Homo sapiens: one gene and its partners. The protein of the gene in region 6 interacts with the protein of the main gene of each other region in a pairwise test. Each region holds a gene or a part of one and is shown on either strand. Other genes may lie near its edges.

Region 1 (3,500 bases), on a different chromosome or scaffold from region 6:
CTTCTTTATGTAATGAAATCCGTTCATTCCCACAAGAGCAGCAAAAATTTAGCCTGAAAAAAATTTAGAATTGATAGTAAAAATTGTTTAAGGTTCTAATGTCCCCATTTCTCCAGGGCAAATTTGTGGCCTTAAAACAAAGGTGCAGCTTTACTTACATTTGTGCTAGAAATAAGCAACTAAAACCAATTGGACCGTATTTCAATGACTAGGTTATCTTCAGTGGGTCAGCTACCTTTGTTAGGCTTTTAACAACTCCTTGGCATATCTGATAATGCATTTACCTTTGAAACATCCTTCTTTGATTTCATATGAACATTCTTACAATGTTTATAATAGTGAGGAAGAAAAGTGCTTTTCCTTTAAACAATTATTGCTAAAATGTCCTAATTTGAGTTTCGCAACCTATACGTTATAAAATAAGGAAAGTTTTTAATTAAAAAATAATTTAGGCCTGGCATGGTGGCTCATGCCTGGAATCCCAGTACTTTGGGAGGCCACTGCAGCGGGATCGCTTGAGTCCAGGAGTTCAAGACCAACCTAAACAACCCCAGTAGCAAGACCCCATCTTTATATTTTAAATAATAATAATATACATAGTGTACTTAATTTTATTTGTGTGTATGAGGGTTTTTTTGTTTGTTTTTGTACTTTCTTTAAAAAGAACCTAAAGCATGATGTTTTGACTCTAGTAAATCAGGAGGTTTTTTGTTTTTTTGTTTTGTTTTGTTTTTAAGATGGAGTCTTGCTCTGTCACCCAGGCTGGAGTGCAGTGGCACAATCTCGGCTCACTGCAACCTCTGCCTCCCGGGTTGGAGTGATTCTCCTGCCTCAGCCTCCCGAGTAATTGGGATTACAGGGGCCCACGACTACGTCCGACTAATTTTTGTGTTTTTAGTAGAGGTGGGGTTTTGCTACGTTGGTCAGACTGGTCTAGAACTCCTGACTTCAGGTGATCCATCCACCATGGCCTCCCAAAGTGCTGGGATTATAGGCGTGAGCCACCGTGCCCGGCATATCAGGAGCTATTAACTTGGTGCCTATCATGCTGTTATGGATGCAAAAGTGATTTAAAATAAGCAAGATTTCAGTTGAATGCCAGACTGAATTTGAATTGATTTGATAGGCAGTAGTGAACCATTATTGGTTTCCTGAGAGAAGTGACATTTCCTAGAGAAAACAACAACTTACATTTGTGTAGCACTTCACTATTAATTAATGGAAGAACCCCAGTTAGAGCCCAGATCTTCTAAGTAGTAATACCTATTCATCAGACTTTCACTGTTTTGCCGTATTACAAGCAGCTTTTTTTAAAAAAAGGTAACTGACAATGGTGTGCATTGGAGAGAAATTAGAAACAGGCCGGTTCCAAGCTTTTAAAATAACTTAGCTTGAGATAAGGACTTGGACCAGGGAACTAGCATTGGGAGTGGAGTGGCAGAGGTAAGTCTTAGATTTCAAACAGTAAGTCTAGATGGTGACAAAATTATTCTTTAACTTGTTGGATGGATGATTGATATTTTTTCACCTTTGGGACTTTTCTGTTCCTTTTATGGCGGTATTAATGAAAAAAAATTGTTTCAAAAGTATGACTTTAAAATTATGATCCTTTATAGCTAATATTTGGGATATAAAAACTTTTAAATATGTTTTCAGGCTATTTGCGCCTAGGAGCCATGGCTAGAGATAAGGGAAACTTTTATGAGGCTTCAGATTGGTTTAAGGAAGCTCTTCAGATTAATCAGGTTGGTAATATTAACTCTTAGGTTTGAGAAATAATTATTTTCACTTTTCCTTCCCCATAAATCAGTTTTTCCTTTTAATGGCTACATCTTCCTGGTTTTGTCATTTTTTGTTTTGTTTTCATTTACTTGTTAGATACTAAAAATGTACTAGGTTGCATTATTAATCATGTTATAAATAGGGACCATGTTTTTTTATGTAAATCTTTCCTATTGTCTTCCTTTTTCCTTCTTCCCTTCCCCCATCCCATCCTTTCACTCCACTTCAACAAATGTGACCTGACTCCTGTGTTTTTTACTCTCACTAGTTTACTTCACTTTCAGTTTAGTTAGTACCATATGAGAGAACTTTATAGCATAGTATCTTAGGATTTTGTATGGAACCATAGCTATGGTCATCTAAACGTTTTGAGGGCCCACAAAAAGAAATAGATTTCACATCATAGCCTAGTACACACAAATGTATATATAGACAAACAACTGAAATGAAAGTTTCACAAATCATTATTTGCTTTTGCCAATGGGCGATACACTGATATTTTTACTTTATTCCATTCTGTTGCATTTACTATGCAGATAACTAAAGACTAACTAAATGGATTTTACAACTTACTAATGGGTATCAACTCAGTTTGAAAACCACTCATGTGGGGGTCTACAACAAGAAGTGTATATTTTCAAACAATTTTTTAATGATTTAACAATTTTTGTAAATCATTTTCAGGCTTCTGCAGCTGTAGATTCTCACTGTGAATCCCATGCTTGCTCATGCCTAAGGGTATTTGCAATACCAAATATAGTTTAGTATTTTTGCCTGTTAGTGATGGTTCCACGTTTGTAACGTTTTGGTTGAGATTTTAAATGGTGGACAAGTACTGTGGATGTGAATGTGGGGAACTAATTTTAATCATATGTAATTGGTCACAAGGCCTAATTTGCAGTAACTATTGCTGTTTTATTTAACAGTGCCTTGTTGCTTTGTATGCATTTATGTCTGGATGTAAAGATTGTGTGTCTATCCAACAGGGAGCCACAGTATTTAAATTGACCAACCTAATGTTACAACTACTTTGAGGTGGCCAAATGTAAACTGAAAGCATTAATTAAAGTGGTGCAATTTTGTATAACTTAGCTTTAGCATTAGTAGTTCGATAAATTTGGATTGCCATGCAAAAAAAAAAAGAAAGAAAGAAAAGAAAGAAAACCACTGTTGTAATATAGTTTGTAAACCTCTTCAGTAATCAGCTATTGTGGGAAGATGATTGATCTCTGTCAAACTAAACTGCAGATTTTCCTTCTTCATGTATGTATGTTTCAGGATCATCCAGATGCTTGGTCTTTGATTGGCAATCTTCATTTGGCAAAACAAGAATGGGGTCCTGGGCAGAAGAAGTTTGAGAGGATATTAAAACAGCCATCCACACAGAGTGATACCTATTCTATGCTAGCCCTTGGCAACGTGTGGCTCCAAACTTTACATCAGCCCACCCGAGATCGAGAAAAGGTAATCTCTTTTTGTCCTTTTAAACAAAACTGATACTCTACATTCTCGTTTGAATCTTTTTTAAGAGCACTTGTTTCTATAGGAAAAGCGTCATCAAGATCGTGCTCTGGCCATCTACAAACAAGTACTCAGAAATGATGCAAAGAATCTGTATGCTGCCAATGGCATAGGTGATTATAAGACTTGAGTACCCATAACAATTTGTTTCAAATGAATACTTTCAGAGGAATGTTTGTAAATCAGAATTTTTCTTA
Region 2 (3,500 bases), on a different chromosome or scaffold from region 6:
ACAGTTTTGGTTGTTACAACTGGAAGGGAAGGATGATAGTAAACTGGCGTCTAGTAGAGGTTAGGGATGCTGCTAAACATCCTGCAGTGCACATTGCACAGAGCAGCCTCTCACAACAAATGTTTATCTGGTCCAAAATGTGAGTGATGGCAAGGTTGAGAAACGCTGCTGTAAACTGATCAGTTTTAAACTGCAGTATTACTTTTTTTGTTAATAGCACTACTGCTCTTCATATTTTGCAGGGTACAGTGTGTGTGCCTCTGTGTGTGTGTGTGTGTGTGTGTGTAAGCAAGAGAAAATACTGTTTCGATCAACCAGTTACCAAAGCATGTTTCTACCATTTTGTGTTCTTTTCTGCAGTGACCTTGTAGTTACTCTTTTCCATAGTATCATTCCCTTGTTCTCATCTCCTTTCAATCTTACTTACATATCCCTAATTTGACCATCTTGAGATAATATTTTTCCCATCAGGAACTGGCTTTTATTGCCTGCTGAATCAAATATAAAGAATTCTGGATGGCTTCCAAAGTCTTCCATAATGTGACTCCATCTCCTACATAATATAATTTAGTTATTCTTGTTAGTCAACATTTTTTTTTCCTTTTAGTTAAATTCAGCTGACAGGGAGAAACATTTATTAAAGTGGTGACTATGTGAGGACTATTGAGATAGGTGCCAGGGATCCAAAGACATGTCAACATTTTCCCTCTATCCGATTGATTATTTCCCAATAACTTCTGTAATATTCCTTATTATTACTATTTTTTCCGAGATGGAGTTTCACTCTTGTTGCCCAGGCTGGAGTGCAGTGGTGCGATCTTGGCTCACTGCAACCTCTGCCCCCTGGGTTCAAGAGATTCTCCTGCCTCAGCCTCCTGAGTAGGTGGAATTACAGGCGTCCACCACCATGCCCAGCTAATTTGGTATTTTTAGTAGAGACGGGGTTTCTCCATATTGGTCAGGCTGGTCTTGAACTTCTGACCTCAGGTGATCTGCCTGCCTCAGCCTCCCAAAGTGCTGGGATTACAGGTGTCAGCCACCATGCCCAGCCAGATGTCCTCCTTTCTTACCCTGTTCTTAGCTAAATTCTGTCCTCAAGGCCAGGTTCTCTCTCTCATCACATCATCATGAGCACTGCGTGTGTATGAGGATTTTAAAGCCTTATAGTAATTGTCTGTTGATCCCATTACTGTATTTAAGGAATGATATAGATCACAAGCATTGTAGGATTCACATGAAGAAACAAATTCCAAGAACTGGGACCATAAAGGATGGAAGAGATGGAACTTAAGTTTGTTTCTTCTTGTAGCTGAGACCTCAGATGTGCACCACTACGCCCAGCTAATTTTTAAATTTTTTGTAAAATTTTTTGTCTTTACTTTGTTGCCCACTTTGTTGGCTACCTACCATTTCTCCCTATCTCTGCCCTTTAGGCAACAACAATACTCAACATAAATATCTGTTCTTGAACTCCTGGGCTCAAGCAGTCCTCCCACCTCAGTCTCCCAGAGTGTTGGGATTACAGCTGTGAGGCACCACGCCCAGTCAGTGCACTGCTTTTTGCATGGAGAAAGTCTTGCTGCTACTTTAAAAAGGTCAGTGTGCTTAATTGATCTACATTCTGTCACAAACTTCTTATTTTATCACAAACTGATAACAAACAGTTCCCCAATCAGCACTGGTCATTGGACCATACTTGGAGTTACATTGCTGTAGTGTGAGACTTTCATACTTTTTTTAAAATTGTCACCTGTATTAAGAAATACATTTTACATTTTCATCCAGTGTTATATCATATACACATGTACATAACTGAAACAATTTTACGAAGCAGTACCTAACCTTACTATGTGTGACATAGTCTGATGTTTGCTATTTTTTTAATGCTGATCATGACCTTCTAATGGATTTTAAAAACACTGCCCTCAAGCATTTAGCACAGTGCTAGAGACATAGTAGTTGCTCAGAAAATACCATACATTTTAGCAGTGATTAAATCTTGAGAGGGTTGAGCCTTCTTAATACTTGAGGATTACTTTAAAATGTTATTTCATTGGCCGGGCACGATGGCTCACGCCTGTAATCCCACCACTTTGGGAGGCCGAGGCGGGCGGATCACCTGAGGTCAGGAGTTCGAGACCAGCCTGGCCAACATGGAGAAACCCTGTCTCTACTAAAATACAAAAATTAGTGGGGCATGGTGGCGGGGCGCCTGTAATCTCAGTTACTTGGGAGGCTGAGGCTGCTTGAATCTGGGAAGTGGAGGTTGCAGTGAGCCAAGTTCATGCCACTGCACTCCAGCTTGGGCGACAGAGTGAGACTCCGTCTCCAAAAAAAAAAAAAGTTATTTAATCAATACTTAGTTGTTTGTGGCACCTTATACAGAACGAGTGTAGAGTGGATTATGAGATTTAAGACAGCGAGAAGATACTTATGTTGAGTATTGTTGCTGCCTAAGGGCAGAAATAGAGAGAGATGGTGGGTGACCAACAAAGACAACTTTTGCTTTCCTTTCAATATTGCCAAAGACCTTAGGAGTGGCTGGTGTGAATCCCTGCTTAAAATCAGGACCAGTTTGAATGACTGCAAACCTCATTTTTCACTTTTTACCTTTTAGTCTTCACTTTGTGGTTCCAGTCATCAAATCCCTACTCTTTGTCTTAGAAAGGAGCAGAAGGATGTCAGAGAAAGAACATTTTCTCTTTATTTATTTATTTTTTTTTGAGATGGAGTCTCTGTTGCCCAGGCTGCAGTGCAGTGGCGCGATCTCAGCTCACTGCAAGCTCCACCTCCCAGGTTCGTGCCATTCTCCTGCCTCAGCCTCCTGAGTAGCTGGGACTACAGGTGCCCGCCACCGTGCCCGGCTAATTTTTTGTCTTTTTAGTAGAGACGGGGTTTCACCGTGTTAGCCAGGATGGTCTTGATCTCCTGACCTCGTGATCCGCCCGCCTTGGCCTCCCAAAGTGTTGGGATTACAGGCGTGAGCCACTGTGCACGGCTGCATTTTCTCTTTGTTAACTCATTTTCAACACTTTTGGGTTTCACTTTTGGAGCACTGCTGTTTGACTAAGGCTGAAGTTCTTTGTCAGGTTTACACATCTTAAGAATTTTTATTTTTTGTTGTTAGAAGCATGTTAATTTTTCTTGCATATACTTAGTTATTTTTTTTTCACTTGCAATCCTTCTTGAAGCATAAGGTTTTTTGTTTTGTTTTGTTTTGTTTTGTTTTGTTTTAAAAGACAGAGTCTTGCTCTGTCGCCCAGACTCCGCTCACTGCAATCTTCACCTCCTGGGTTCAAGCGATTTTTCTGCCTCAGCCTCCTGAATAGCTGGGATTACAGGTGTGCGCCACCACGTCCGGCTAATTTTTGTATTTTTAGTAGAGATGAGGTTTCACCATGTTGGCCAGGCTGGTCTCAAACTCCCGACCTCAAGCAGTCCACCTGCCTCAGCCTCCCGAAGTGCTAGGATTACAGGCCTGAGCCACCACGCCCGGCTGC
Region 3 (3,500 bases), on a different chromosome or scaffold from region 6:
CTCCCAAAGTGCTGGGATTACAGGCGTGAGCCACCGCGCCCGGCTCCAGTCTTGATTTAATTGTGGCACTTCCTATAATCTACCTAGTCCAAAACAACAACAAAAAATTTCAAAGTTCAGTACAGTTCCCCATGAAATGAAAGTTGCATCAGTGGCTATCAAGAACTCAAAAGAAAATACAAACATTAAGTCTGGCAAGGATTTATTAGGAAGCTTATTAGTCACAGTGAATAAAAGCCATGAAAAGAAGAACTCAAATCTCCAAATTCTGGCATCGGACTTACAACACTAGTTAGAAGCTAATAAACATTAAGGAATTTCCAAGGGGAATCTTAACTAAGTCTCAATCTTACTGACCAGATTACCCACACACATAGAAATGATCCCCATGCTCTCCCCAGACTGCTTAGCTAGGCAGTGGAAAAGACCTTCTCCCCAAGCTTAAGCTATCACGCATCAGCAGGAGACTCCTGTCCTTCTAGCTATAACCACAGGACACATGTGCGTGACAGACAACTCCAAGCTGGGCAACTTGACAAGAATGCTGAACAATGAGAGGGGAAAGGAGCAAGCAGGAACAAGTGTTTTAGTTGGAGACCCTCCTGATGGCTACTACTAACACAATCCGGAGGCATCAGAAAGTTTCCTATAGCCCACAAATAGTTTCCTTTAAAAAAACAAAAACAAAAACAAAAAAACAAGTCACACAACAATCTTGCCACAAAGCAACATGACACTTGGAATCACATGGCCACATTAACTGGAAAAGCAAGTGTTACCCATGACTGCCAGATGCCACCCAGCCCAAGACCCAATTTCCACAGCGCCCTAGAGAACCACGATGGTCCCCTGGCACCTACACAACCCTCCCAGTGGTGTCGTATCTTCCGTAGGCCAGGTTTCTGCAGCAAGCCCCAAAGACAAAGCTTGGCAGAGGCTGTGGCAGCCAACTCTCTCTGGAGCCTCATCCCTTTGTCCTTCCCAACAGGTAGTCGTACATCTTCACTGACACAGCGCCTCTATGGGAGCCTTGGCCAGCCCTTAGGAAATAAAGTGTGTCTGTGGGGTAACCTGATGGACCCTATGGTCTGCTGGGTTGGCAGATGCTTCGTAATTGCAGATGGTCACCTCGTGTCGGCGAAGCTGCAAGAAAATTGAGGCTGGGTCAGCCAGCCATTAAAAGAACTGTCCTTTCCCACACCACACACATTGCGGTAGTCCTTATTCAGGTTCATTTCTAGGAGTCATCATTTAATATCTCCTTATTTTAATACTTAGATGTCATCATCTAATATCTCCCAATTTTGATACTTTTTAACTCCAGAAAGCTGCAAAGATCATTATCATTGATTCACCCTGTAACTTTGAAGATTCAGTCTCCCTACTATAATGGGGGTACCATGAGAATAGGAACTTGTCTATGGTATTATCTTATCCCTGGTTCATGAATAGAAAAGATTATCAAAAATACTCAATGAAAGCATTTGAAAGTAGAAAACTGTGAATTAATATAAATGACAATTTCAGGCTGGGCAAGGTGGCTCACACCTGTAATCCCAACATTTTGGGAGGCTGAGATGGGCAGATCACCTGAGGTCAGGAGTTCGAGACCAGCCTGGCCAACATGGTGAAACCCTGTCTCTACTAAAAATACAAAAAAATTAGCCAGGCGTGGGAGTGGGCACCTGTAATCCCAGCTACTTGGGGGGCTGAGGCAGGAGAATCACTTGAACCTGGGAGGCGGAGGTCGCAGTGAGCTGAGATATATATATATATATTATATATATTATTTATATAAAAATAACAGTTTCAACCCCCTTAAAAATACCTGTAGTTTCTCAAATGAGACGAAAAGTTTATACTGATAAAACCAAGAAAAATAATAAACTGGGAGTAATTATGACACTTGCTCTTTTCCCTTCCCTGGAAGCTCCCATCACCACAGTGTGCAGATATGTAGACATGAGGGGAAAACCTTTCCAACCCCATCTTACCTCAGTCCACTCTCCTCTCAGGCCAATATAAAAGACCTTTGTCGTATCTGCTCCGAAGTTTTTTGAAATATGAATTGAGAGATGATAGACATTTGAAAAACGAGAAATTCTAGAGGATGACAGGAATAGGGAAAGAAGGTATGAATTATAGTTCAATGAGTATCTCACCACCATGTGAAACAACAATTCAGCTCCAGCTTGTAAAAGCCAGGCAAAGTCAGAGCTCCTGAGTTCTTCCTTCTCCTTTGGACAGGCAATTAATTCAATGACCATTTACTGAGCACCTGCCAGATCCTGTCCAAGGCAGTAGGGATAAACACTGCTCCTGCCCTCAAGGAACAGGAATGAGAAATGCTGCATAACCCAGCAGGGATTCTAAAGCACATTTAGTGTTAACCTAAACTAATGGGAGACACATCTTTCCTAAAACCACCCTAGGAGTTCATTCAGATCTGCCAATTGCTTGCAAGTTAACAAGTCTGTGGCTTGCACTGAATCTCTGCCAAAAACTGACCAAGCCAAAGATCAAGTCTCCTCCACTGTTTTAACTCATTTCCAATGCTAAGAGAGCAGGAGACTGGCCAAAAATAAATGGCAAGCCCTATAAGAAGCCATAGAGAATGGAAGACAGGCCCAGTGCTTACTTTGTAGCATACTCTAATTCTCCTGTAAGATCCCGGTTCAGACTAAAGGTCTGATCTGGCTCCCTTTCTGTATCATCAAAGGACATCTGTGGAATATTCTTGTACCTGAGAAAGGAAAGGAAAGAAAAGTCAAGAAATGTGCATTATCACGTTTCAGGTTTTCAAAATTTTCTACTGACTGCTTAAATGGCTTTGGTTCTATCAATAGGAGACTGAATTTGGGGGTCATATTTTAGAAATGACATTTTATACAAGTATCTCCAAATATCTTTTTTTTTTTTTTTTTTGAGACAGAGTCTCACTGTGTCACCCAGGCTGGAGTGCAATGGTACAATCTCAGCTCACTGCAACCTCCACCTCCCAGGTTCAAGTGACTCTCATGCCTCAGCCTCCTGAGTAGCTGGGACTACAGGCGTACGCCACCATGCCCGGCAAATTTTGGTACTTTTAGTAAAGACAGGGTTTCACCATGTTGGCAATGCTGGTCTCTAACTCCCAACCTCAGGTGATCCGCCTACGTCGGTCTCCGAAAGTGCTGGAATTACAGGCATGAGCCACCGCGTCTAGCCTACAAATATCTTTAATCCAACAAAAAAAGAGCTGAGATCTGCAACATAACCCCATGGCATCTTTGAGTGGGTTAATATCACATGAGAAGCAATACACAAAGAGACGGCTCAAACTAGGTCACATGCAGCAAATGCATGGAGAAAATAAACAACTCAGCACATTCAGACCAAACTGAGGATGTTATTAAATAAAACAGCTTACTCATGGGAAAAATACATACTTTGGCAGAAACATATTACACACAGTTAAGAGATAAAAGATCAGGTAACCCAATGCTCAAGCATTTTTTTGT
Region 4 (3,500 bases), on a different chromosome or scaffold from region 6:
TGGTAATGATAGACACTGGGGACTGTTGGAGGAGGGAGAGAGGTGGGGGCAAGGATTGAAAAATTATTTGTTGGGTACTATGCTCACTTCCTGGGTGATGGGTTCAACAGTATCCCAAATCTCAGAATCATGTGATATACCCATGTAACAAACCTGCGCAGGTACCCCCCTCCGAATCTAAAATAAAAGTTGGGCTGGGCATGGTGGCTCTTGCCTGTAATTCCAGCACTTGGAGAGGCCAAGAGAGGAGGATCACTTGAGTCTAGGAGTTTGAGATCAGCCTAGGTAACAGAGTGAGACACTGTCTCTACAAAAAATTTAAAAATTAGTCAGGTGTGGTGGTATGTGCCTGTAGACCCAGCTCCTCGGGAGGCTGAGGTGAGAGGATTGCTTGAGCCTGGGGGGTCAAGGCTGCAGTGATCCATGGTGGTGCCACTGCACCCAGCCTGGGTGACAGAATGAGATTTCTCTCAAATAAGATAAAATAGGGCCGAGCGTGGTGGCTCATGCCTGTAATCCCAGCACTTTGGGAGGCCGAGGCGGGTGGATCACGAGGTCAGGAGATAGAGACCATCCTGGCTAACACGGTGAAACCCCGTCTCTACTAAAAATACAAAAAATTAGCTGGGCGAGGTGGCGGGCGCCTGTAGTCTCAGCTACTCGGGAGGTTGAGGCAGGAGAATGGCGTGAACCTGGGGGGCGGAGCCTGCAGTGAGCCGAGATCGCGCCACTGCACTCCAGCCTGGGCAACAGCGAGACTCCGTCACAAAAAAAAAAAAAAAAAAAAAAAGATAAAATAAAAGTTGAAATTATTTTTAAAAAGTTATTAATCTTTCCTCACACTATTGATAGTTTGGCAGGATATAGAATTCCAGGTTGAAAATAATTCTTCCTCAGGGGTTAAGGCATTGTTCCATTGTCGTATTTTATTTTTGAGACAGGGTCTTACTCTATAGCCCAGGCTGGAGTGCAGTGGTGGCACAATCATGGTTGACTACAGCCTTGATCCCCTGAGCTCAAGCAACCCTCCTGCCTCAGCCTCCTAAGTAGCTGGACTACAGGCATGTACCTACACCTGGCTAATTTTTAAATTTTTTTTTGTAGATGGGGTCTCACTATGTTGCCCAGGCTGGTCTCAAACTCCTGAGCTCAAGGGATCTGCCCATCTTGGCCTCCCAGAGTGCTGGGATTAGAGGCATGTGCCATGGCACCCAGCCTCCATGTCTTTTAATTTTCAGTGTTAGCCTTTAAAAATCTAATGCCATTCCAATCCCTGATCCTTTGTATGTGACCCTTTTCCCATTCTTGCTGAAAGCTTTTAGGATCTTCTCTTTGTTCCCAGTGTTCTGTTTTTACAGCAATTTGCCATGGTGTGGGTTATTTTCATCTATTGAGTTAGCCACTTGATGGGCCTTTTCAATCTGGAAACTGACGTTCTTCAGTTCTGGGAGATTTTTTAAAATTATTTCTTTGATGATTATCCTCCAGTATTTTTCTGTTCTTTCTGGGAATCCTATTACTTGGACAGAGGGTGTCCTGAACTGATGATCCTCTATGTTTTTGTTTTTGTTTTTTTCACTCTTGCATCTCTTTTTTTTTTTTTTTTTTGAGACAGAGTTTTGTTGTGTCGCCCAGGCTAGAGTGCAATGGTGCGATCTTGGCTTACTGCAAGCTCCACCTCCCGGGTTCACGCCATTCTCCTGCCTCAGCCTCCCAAGCAGCTGGGACTACAGGTGCCCACCACCACACCCGGCTAATTTTTTGTATCTTTAGTACAGACAGGGTTTCACCATGTTAGCCAGGATGGTTTCAATCTCCTGACCTTGTGATCCACCTGCCTTGGCCTCTCAAAGTGCTGGGATTACAGGCGTGAGCCACAGCACCCAGTCACATCTATTTCTATACTTGCTCTAGTTTCTGAAATATTTCAACTTGATCAACTCCTCTTTTTTTTTTTTTTTTTTTTGAGATGGAGTCTCACTCTTGTCCCCCAGGCTGGAGTGCAATGGCGCACATCTTGGCTCACTGCAGCCTCTGCCTCTCGGGTTCAAGTGATTCTCATGACTCAGGCTCCCAAGTAACTGGAATTACAGGTGTCTGCCACCACATCTGGCTGATTTTTGTATTTTTAGTAGAGATGGGGTTTCACCATGTTGGTCAGGCTGCTATTGAACTCCTGACCTCAGGTGATCCACTGCCTTGGCCTCCCAAGTGCTGGGATTACAGGCATGAGCCACCACACCTGGCCTATTATCAACTCTTTGGTTTTTCTTTTTTCTTTTCCCCGCCATGATGTGTTTATTTCCAAGTGCTGTTTCTAGTTCTCTGAATGTTTACCTTTTTACACCTTCTTGTTTTTGTTCATGGCTACAGTATTATCTTTTATCTCTTTAAGGATATGCTTAATGATTTTTATAAGTTCGTATCTCTCTGTATTATCTCCATTTCATTCAAGTTGCTTTTTCTTTTCCTTTTTTTTTTTCTTTTTGAGACAGAATGTCATTCTGTCACCCAGGCTGGAGTGCAGTGGCACGATCTCGGCTCACTGCAACCTCTACCTCCCAGGTTCAAGCGATTCTCATGCCTCAACCTTCTGAATAGCTGGGATTACAGGTGCCCGCTACCACAACCAGCTAATTTTTGTATTTTCAGTAGGGATGGGGTTTCATCATGTTGGCCAGGCTGGTCTCAAATTCCTGACCTCAAGTGATCATCCAGCCTCGGCCTTCCAAAGTATTGGGATTACAGGCCTGAGCCACCATGCCCGGCCTCAAGTTGCTTTTTCCTATTTATTTAGGTCTATATAGAGGGTCAGATGTCTATCATCTTTAACTGCTGCTCACCCTTCAGAGTGGATCTCTACAATGACTAGAAACCGTGTATGTATGAAGCTTGCCAACTCTGAGCCTCACTACAGGATGATCTGATTGGGCTGTTTAATTGGAGGTCTAAAGTCTGTATCTTTTTTTTTTTTCTTGAGTTAATCATATTCCCCATATTATACCACTCTAGAGAGTATAACGTAAGCAAGGCTGTCAGTATCCTAGGAGCCAAGTAGGGGTAAAGGCTTGGAGAGGTATTTCATGATATTTAGTACTTTTTAAAGTTTTTGTAGAGACAAAGTCTCGCTACGTTGTCCAGGCTGGAGTGCAGTGGCATGATCATAGCTCACTGTAGCCTCAAACTCCCAGGCTCAAACTCCTCACCTCAGCCTCCCAGAGTGCTGTGATTACAGGCGTAAGCCATTGTGCCTGGCCGTATTTAGTGTATTTTTATTTAGTCCCTCTTGTCCTCAACTATGCTCAGTGTCTTTTAATCTAGAGACCTTCTGTTCTATTCTCCATATATAAAGTCATTTGTCACGTAACAATGGGGATATGCTTAGAGAAATACACCAGCAGGAGGTTTTACTGCCGTGCAAATATGACAGGGTAAATGCACAAACTAGATGACATTTTAAAAAATTTATATACTTTTTAAAATATGGAAAACAAAATGTC
Region 5 (3,500 bases), on a different chromosome or scaffold from region 6:
GGAGTCACCTGGGCGAGGTGCTCTGTCTGGGCCTGGTGTCCACAGTAGAAGCCCGGGGTCTGGGGCCTGGGCCGGAGCAGGCCGCCGTGGCAAGGGGCGGAGGAGGCCAGCCGCCACCGAGACCTCGGGGCGGGTCCCTACCTCTGCCGGACGTCCTTATCTGGGCCACGGGGTCAGCTTTGTCTGGAGAGCCCAGGGGCCGGGCGCCGGCGAGGCTGAGGAAGGTCCAGCAAGAGCAAGAGTCTGAGGCGGAGGAGGCAAGCGCCAGTGCGGGAGCCCTGAGGGCAGACAGACCCGACCAAGGGGCGTGAAGGGCTCAGCCGCAGACAGGCCCGGCCTGACAGGGCCGGCGGGCAGGGCAGAAGGCAGGCCCGAGGCTGCCACAGCCCACAGGTGCTGCCATCTCTCCTGGGCACGGCGGTGGCCTCTTGGCAGCTAGCTGGGGCGGCACAGGCGCCTTGGACCTTGAGTCTCTGATGAGCTGGCCCCCTCCCTCAGGGGCATCAGGCCCCCAGTGCACCTTGGGGTTCGTGCGCCGAGTGACCTAGCGCCAGAGCTTCTGAGCAACGGTGCCGAGCGGTGTCAGGTCTCGGCCCACAGACGCCAGCGGTCGCCAGGCGGCCGCAGAGGGGCAGGGGATGAGTCAGGCCTTGGGAGCTGGGCCTGGCGGGAAGCAGGGTCCATGCACGGCCGAGCAGGTGGCGGCTCCCAAGGGAGGCCAGAGGGCGGCGAGCTGGCAGAGCTATGGCCCTGCTCTCCTGGCGGCAGCCCCACAGCGAGGCAGAGGCAGAGGGGTGGAGGGAAGCTGGTTACCTTTCCACCATGCGGTCTCGCTGCCGCTTTTTCTGCTTGTCCTGACTCTTCTTGCCTGCCTGCAACTTGCGCTTGGTCTGGCCATTTTCATCCTGGGTGGTTAGGGCCCCTGTGGGAGCAGATGGGCACTGTCACCAATTTGGCTCTGCCAGGACAGGGCAGGCCCTGCGGCCTCTGGCTGAATCACCCACTGTCCACTCCAGAGGGTCCATCGAGAATAGCTGTCCAAGCAAGGCCTCTGGCCATGAGCAGGGCTGGGTATCCTGGGCTGTGCAGGGAGTGGGTTTGGCCTAGGCCCCAAGGAGTGGGGGCCAGGCGATGACCCCTCCACTCTCCAGGACACCCATGCTCTCTGTGCAGTGGGCCAGGAGGAGGCTGGAAAGCAAAGAGGGGGTATCTTTGTGGGGACACTGGCACATGTTCAGAGGGGCCAGGTGGTGGGATGCAGGGAGGCTGCTCACATGGCCCTGCCCACCCCCAACCGGGCACCGCGGCAACAGTGGGCTGACGCTGGATTTGCTGTTAGGTACCTGCTGGCGCTCATCACTCAGGTGGGGGGACACGGAATCCCAACAGGGGCTGGAGAGGTGCTAAGGGAGAGGATACGCACACCAGAGCCGTAAAAACTGCACCGAGGGTCCCAGATCGGACACCAGCCACTGAGGACTTGGAACTGCGCGTTACTGAGGGACCGAGGGCAGGGGGCGTGCCTGGGGTTCCCCACACTTTTACTAGCTGCCCCCATCTGAAGGCAAAACCAGTGTGCTAGGCAGGGGTCACCACCATCCACAGCCTCCGCCTGGGAAGGAGGAGGAAGAGTGGGAAGGGGGTGGAGGCGGCGAAAAGAAAGCCCCCTGCCAGCACACACTCGGGCCCACAAGGGAGGTCCCCAACTGGCCGCATGTCTGCCGCAACCCTGCCCTCAGCTGGGTCCCTCCCACTGTGAGCCCCTGGAAGAGCCGCCCTAGCACCAGGCACCCCAGGAAAACTCACCCTTCTCTGGATCCTCTTTGCCTTCTTCTCTCCCATCCTCTTTTCCCTCCTCATCCTCTCCGTCCTAACAATTTCAAATTCCAACTTTAAAACAGGTGCCTTTTTTTTTTTTTTTAAAAGAAACCAAGTTTATTAGAGCAACGGTATATAGTAAAACAGCTGCTTGCTCCATAGACAGAGCAGGGCTATCCTATAGGCAGGGTGGCCCAGAGTAGCCCAGTTATTTACAATGGCTTTAAATGACAAGGCCCGGCTATGTGCCAGAAACCTCACATCCTCCCACTACCTGGTGCACAGGGGCTCATCCCATTTTCCAACAAGGAAACTGTGCCTCCAGCTAGGCAGCCTGTGCTTTCTGCCAGACCACACTGCCTCCCCATGCTGGTCACCATGCACGCAGAGCTGACACAGCATTGCCTCTGGCCCCCAGGGAGAGCACCACTCTTTAGGCCAGCTCGCCCTGCCTGCAGACAGAAAATGCCCAGCCAGAGCCACTTACCACTCTGGAGCCCTTCTCCACAGCCTCGGTGCCTTCAAGGCCCTCTGTGGCTTCCCCCTCGGTGCCCTCATCTGAAAGGGAAAAGGAGGTAAGCTCAACCCAGGAGTTCCCAGAGGCAGGGGGCAGCCGCCCAGTACCACCTAGTGGGCTCACCATTGTCTGAGTCGCTGTTGTCCGAGCAGTCCGTGCGGGTGGCTTTGCTATCTGGCTCATCAGGACTGCCGCCCTGCTTTCTCTTCTTCTTCTTGGTCTGGGTCATAAGGGGGGGAAGCCGTGTCAGGGTGCATGGCACCCGGCCCTTAGCTCCGCCCCAGTGGGAACTAAGCTTCCCAGAGGGGAAGGCTGCCTCCACTCACTCGGAAGTCGGCTGTGGTCCAGGTCTTCCAGGTCCGCCTCATCTGCTTCATGCCATTGCCAAACCCGAAACCAAAGCGGGAGCCGCCCGGGAAGGCGCCCCCACCTCGCATGCCCTGGAACATGCCGTACTCGGGGATGATGTTCTGGGAGAAGAGGGAGGGCAGCCGAGAGGCACCAGACATGCACTGGCCCCGGGCCCCCATGGGGTCTTCCCACATGCGCCCATAGCCTGAGGCCATTGGCCGGCCGCTCCGGGCATCCCGGGCCCAGCCCTGTGCCCTGGGACCGAAGGTGTCGTTGCCACGCATGCGGAACTGGTCGCGGTAGGCATCGTATTGGCCCTCATAGGCCATTTCCATCTCAGGGTCAAGCTCGCTGTAGTCATAGCCTGACCGGTACAGGTCGCGCTCACTCAGGACGGCCCTCGAGTCGCAGGACTCATAAGAGTCATACCTGCAGAGGCATGGGGTGAGCATCAGGTGGAGCCCCTCAGGATCCCTCACCTCCAGGCAACTGCTCCTGCCCTCCCCAATCTCCCAGTCCAGCACCCACCCTGCCCTGGTTGGGAGGCTCAATGTTCAGAAATGCCGATTAAAGAGTTCCAGCCTCTCAGCTGATATAGGGGCACCACTGCCCCAAACTTGAATGTAGCCACACACTGGCTTGGGGACCCTAAGAAGGACTGAAGGACTGATAACTGGGGTGGAGGCTCTAGTCCAGTGAGTCTCAACAAGGGGCAGAGCTGCTCCACAGCCCTTTGGGAACATGTACACCATCTGTGGGAGCTGCAACGCCCAAGGCTGCTCCTCACAGGGCAAGGCTGAGCACCCCAGCACCC
Region 6 (3,500 bases):
TTATGTACTCCCTAAATGTCCATCAACAAGGGATGGTTAAGTCAACATGATACTTCCACACAATGACTACTATGCAATAACTAATTAACATAAAGAGTGAGGCAATTCTGTAGTAGTCATGGGGAAGAATGCTCAAGACATATTGCTAAGTGAAAAAGCAAGATAATGAACAGCATGTACAGTTTAAAAATACATCTGCCCTGGTGGGTGGGAGGGATGGATGAAGAGAAGCTGGTTCATGGGTACAAACATACATAGATAGAAGAACTAAATTCTAATGTCTGTTAGGGTGACTATACTTAGTAGCAATACTTTGTATATTTCAAGGTAACTAGAACAGAGGACTTGATATAATACCAACCCGTGGAAATGAATACTTAGGTGATGGACACGCCGATACTCTGGCTTGATCATTACACACTCCATGCATGGAACACTCACATGTACCCCATAAATATGTAAAATATTATGTATCAATAAAGAAGAAAAATCTGCCCCTAACTACGCATTTACAAATATGTATGTGGGTCTCTATGCATATAGGGTATCTCTGGAGGGATACACAAGGACTAGAAGGAGGAGTGACCTCTCACGAGAAGATCCAGGAACTGAAGAGCCCAGATAAGAAGCAGTTACCTCTCACTGCAAACCCTCTCAGAACCTTTGAATTTCAGACCATGTGTCTGTATTACCAATTCCAAAACTTAACCAAATGCATCTTGAAAACACAAAGATGATTAAAAACCAAAAAGAACCCAGTGATTAGAAGTTGCATAGCTAGGGCACAGTGGCCACCGTAAGAGTGCTAAGAGGATGTTAACAGATGGCTCTACCCTGAGTAGTTTTTTTTGTCCATGAGAATGTCCCAAACTGTTACTCTACTCATCAAAAATCCAAATTCCCACAACTCCTTCAACAACTTTTCCCACCACTCACGAGTGATGGGGGAGGGGGGGTCTCTTCCCAGGAAAGTGCCACCGTCTCTGAAGTAGGCATGCTGGCCCACAACTTGGCCCAACACTCAGTTGCCCCAGAGTTCTCAGGAAAAAACCCATAGAGCATACATATAAAGTGAGCTTTCAATCTTGTAAGTACTGAGAAACACAACAGAGCCCTGATGATTCTAACCTAAGAGAAATGTGAGGCCAGAAAATCCCCCAGCGTGTGGCACATAGAATCTGCTAATGAGATGCCACGCCGGCTGCTCCCTCATTGCAGGGAGAGAGACCACAGTCGAGCAGCAAGGTAGGGCAGGCTGAAGAGAAGCTGGTTCATGGGTACAAACATACATAGATAGAAGGACTAAATGCTAATGTTTGCTACGGGGACTATATTTAGCAGCAATAATTTGTATATTTCTTTGTTGTTGTTGTTGTTGTTGTTGCTGCTGCTGTTGTTATGGAGTTTTTGCTCTTGTTACCCAGGCTGGAGTGCAGTGGCACAATCTCGGCTCACTGCAACCTCCACCTCCTTGGTTCAAGCGACTCTCCTGCCTCAGCCTCCCGAGTAGCTGGGATTACAGGAACACACACTTGGCTAATTTTTTTGTATTTTTAGTAGAGACAGGGTTTCACCATGTTGGCCAGGCTGGTCTCAAACTCCTGACCTCAGGTGATCTGCCTCCCTCGGCCTCCCAAAGTGCTGGGATTACACGCGTGAGCCACCACGCCTGGCCATACTTTGTATATTTCAAGGTAACGAGATGAGAGGACTTGATACCAACACATGGAAATGATGACCACTCATATCCAAAATGCGCATGGAAAAGATGCCCACGTTGTCTACGGTCCATATGGTATGGACTCAGATGAAAAGCCCTGGACTCTGACCCTGTCTCTTTCAGTAAACAGCAAATGCTGGGCTGCACCCCCAGATTCCCCGTCAGTGCTGAAGAACTGACTGCCTCAGCTGCAGGCTATCAGCTGTGAGCTCTCCCCAGGAACCGCCCTCAGCAACTGTCCCGTACGAGGCCATGCCCCTTGCCTGGGCAGCCCCCATCAAGGACTGGCCGATGCGGAAATATAAATCCCAGTCCTCTCAACCCAAGTTGGTCAGCTCTGAAGGGCCAGCTCAGCTCCAGCACTCACCACGGCATGGGCAGGGGCTTTGGCTGAGAGCGGTATTGGAGCCCAGCTTCTCCCTCTGCCCAGTGCTGCTTTGCCCCTTCCCTTGCAGAGGTCAGTTCTGAGAGTAATCCCTAAAAGCACATTCATCTCCTTCCCAAGATCCGCTTGCCACAACCCAATACTGACAGTCTAAAAAGGTGCTGGAGCTTGAACTATGCTCCCCCAAAAGATACCTTCAAGTCCCGTTGGTACCTGTGGATATGATCTTCTTTGAAAATAGGGACTTTGTAGATGTCATCGAGTTAAAATGAGGCAACACTGGATTAGGGTAGACCTACATCCCATGACTGGTGTCCTTATAAAGAGACATAGGAAAAGATTAAGAGACAGAAGAGACACTCAGAGGGAGGAACACTGTGTGAAGACAGACGCAGAGACAGAGCGCTGCAGTCATAAGCCAGAAAATGCCAAAGAGTGCTGGCCACCACCGGAAGCTAGTAAGAGGCAAGGAAGGATTCTCCCTGTGGCTGCAGAGGGAGCATGGCCCTGCCAACACCTTGGTTTTGGATCCTAGCCTCCAGAACTGTGACAGAATAAATTTCTGTTGTTGAAGCCACACAGTGTGTGGTAATTTGTTAGAACCATCCTAGCAAACTCATAGAGAATGTCAGAGAGAAGATCTACTCAGGGCACCCTTCTACGTAATCAAGGCAGGCAAGAACACCAGCAAGCTGGCTGTTACCCCCTCCACCAGGGCTGCTGCAGGCATCTAACAAGAATGTGCACGGGAGGGGCACCCTGAAAAAAACCGTAAAACACTGTAGCACTGGGCTGGTGCTGGTGATGGAGGAGAGGGAACAGCTGTCTCGAATTCACAGAGGCATCCCCCTCCTCGGGGACTATTCAGTCCCTGTGTTTCTAGCTCTTTCCTGCTGGTCATCGTACCACCCAGTGGCACCTCCTATCAGAAAGCGTGAAATTCAATTCAGGTCAGTACTTAGACCAGGGCTGAGTAGAGAAAGAAGTTTCACCCATCAGCTAACATAAGGCCTGGGGATTATCTACGGGTTTCAATTAGCCAAGAGAGCAGGTCTCTCCGTTACCATAAATAATCGACAGAGGGAATATATGTCCCAAGGCAAATGATAACCCTGTGCCCAAGCCTCCTTCCCATGGAGAACACCCCAACCTGTCCCTCTCTTCGGGGGCACATGGCTGCCACTCCCCACCCCTTCTGGGCAGATAAACCCTGGGACAGATGATTGCCGCGCTGACCTCCAATAGCTGGCAGCATGCAGAATTCTATAGTCTCACAGACCTGAGTCGGATTGGTATGCACGGGTAGCTATAGCCGTGACTCAACACCTGCAGAGAAAATGTAGGGTTGTACTCCTCTCCGTGGGCACCGTTTCTGCACTGTTGCGCTGACTCAAA

What was found.
Region 1: the proteins of HUNK (region 6) and CTR9 interact in a two-hybrid assay, tested with the Homo sapiens proteins (one large-scale study listed by BioGRID and IntAct).
Region 2: the proteins of HUNK (region 6) and USP8 interact in a two-hybrid assay, tested with the Homo sapiens proteins (one large-scale study listed by BioGRID and IntAct).
Region 3: the proteins of HUNK (region 6) and PITHD1 interact in a two-hybrid assay, tested with the Homo sapiens proteins (one large-scale study listed by BioGRID and IntAct).
Region 4: the proteins of HUNK (region 6) and LURAP1 interact in a two-hybrid assay, tested with the Homo sapiens proteins (one large-scale study listed by BioGRID and IntAct).
Region 5: the proteins of HUNK (region 6) and AKAP8L interact in a two-hybrid assay, tested with the Homo sapiens proteins (one large-scale study listed by BioGRID and IntAct).

The regions. Positions count from the first base shown.
Region 1 is NC_000011.10:10,764,746-10,768,245, forward strand, and holds part of CTR9 (RNA polymerase-associated protein CTR9 homolog), read left to right. Parts: intron 1-1,656; coding exon 1,657-1,745; intron 1,746-3,060; coding exon 3,061-3,246; intron 3,247-3,328; coding exon 3,329-3,416; intron 3,417-3,500. UniProt on the Homo sapiens protein: Component of the PAF1 complex (PAF1C) which has multiple functions during transcription by RNA polymerase II and is implicated in regulation of development and maintenance of embryonic stem cell pluripotency.
Region 2 is NC_000015.10:50,430,905-50,434,404, forward strand, and holds part of USP8 (ubiquitin carboxyl-terminal hydrolase 8), read left to right. Parts: intron 1-3,500. UniProt on the Homo sapiens protein: Hydrolase that can remove conjugated ubiquitin from proteins and therefore plays an important regulatory role at the level of protein turnover by preventing degradation. Converts both 'Lys-48' an 'Lys-63'-linked ubiquitin chains.
Region 3 is NC_000001.11:23,784,918-23,788,417, reverse strand, and holds the end of PITHD1 (PITH domain-containing protein 1), read right to left. Parts: intron 2,744-3,500; coding exon 2,639-2,743; intron 2,104-2,638; coding exon 1,995-2,103; intron 1,144-1,994; coding exon 1,042-1,143; 3' UTR 186-1,041; downstream 1-185. UniProt on the Homo sapiens protein: Promotes megakaryocyte differentiation by up-regulating RUNX1 expression.
Region 4 is NC_000001.11:46,213,334-46,216,833, reverse strand, and holds part of LURAP1 (leucine rich adaptor protein 1), read right to left. Parts: intron 1-3,500. UniProt on the Homo sapiens protein: Acts as an activator of the canonical NF-kappa-B pathway and drive the production of pro-inflammatory cytokines. Promotes the antigen (Ag)-presenting and priming function of dendritic cells via the canonical NF-kappa-B pathway.
Region 5 is NC_000019.10:15,398,489-15,401,988, forward strand, and holds part of AKAP8L (A-kinase anchor protein 8-like), read right to left. Parts: intron 3,116-3,500; coding exon 2,662-3,115; intron 2,556-2,661; coding exon 2,459-2,555; intron 2,377-2,458; coding exon 2,306-2,376; intron 1,871-2,305; coding exon 1,807-1,870; intron 923-1,806; coding exon 814-922; intron 279-813; exon of another isoform or gene 142-278; intron 1-141. UniProt on the Homo sapiens protein: Could play a role in constitutive transport element (CTE)-mediated gene expression by association with DHX9. Increases CTE-dependent nuclear unspliced mRNA export.
Region 6 is NC_000021.9:31,879,520-31,883,019, reverse strand, and holds part of HUNK (hormonally up-regulated neu tumor-associated kinase), read right to left. Parts: intron 1-3,500.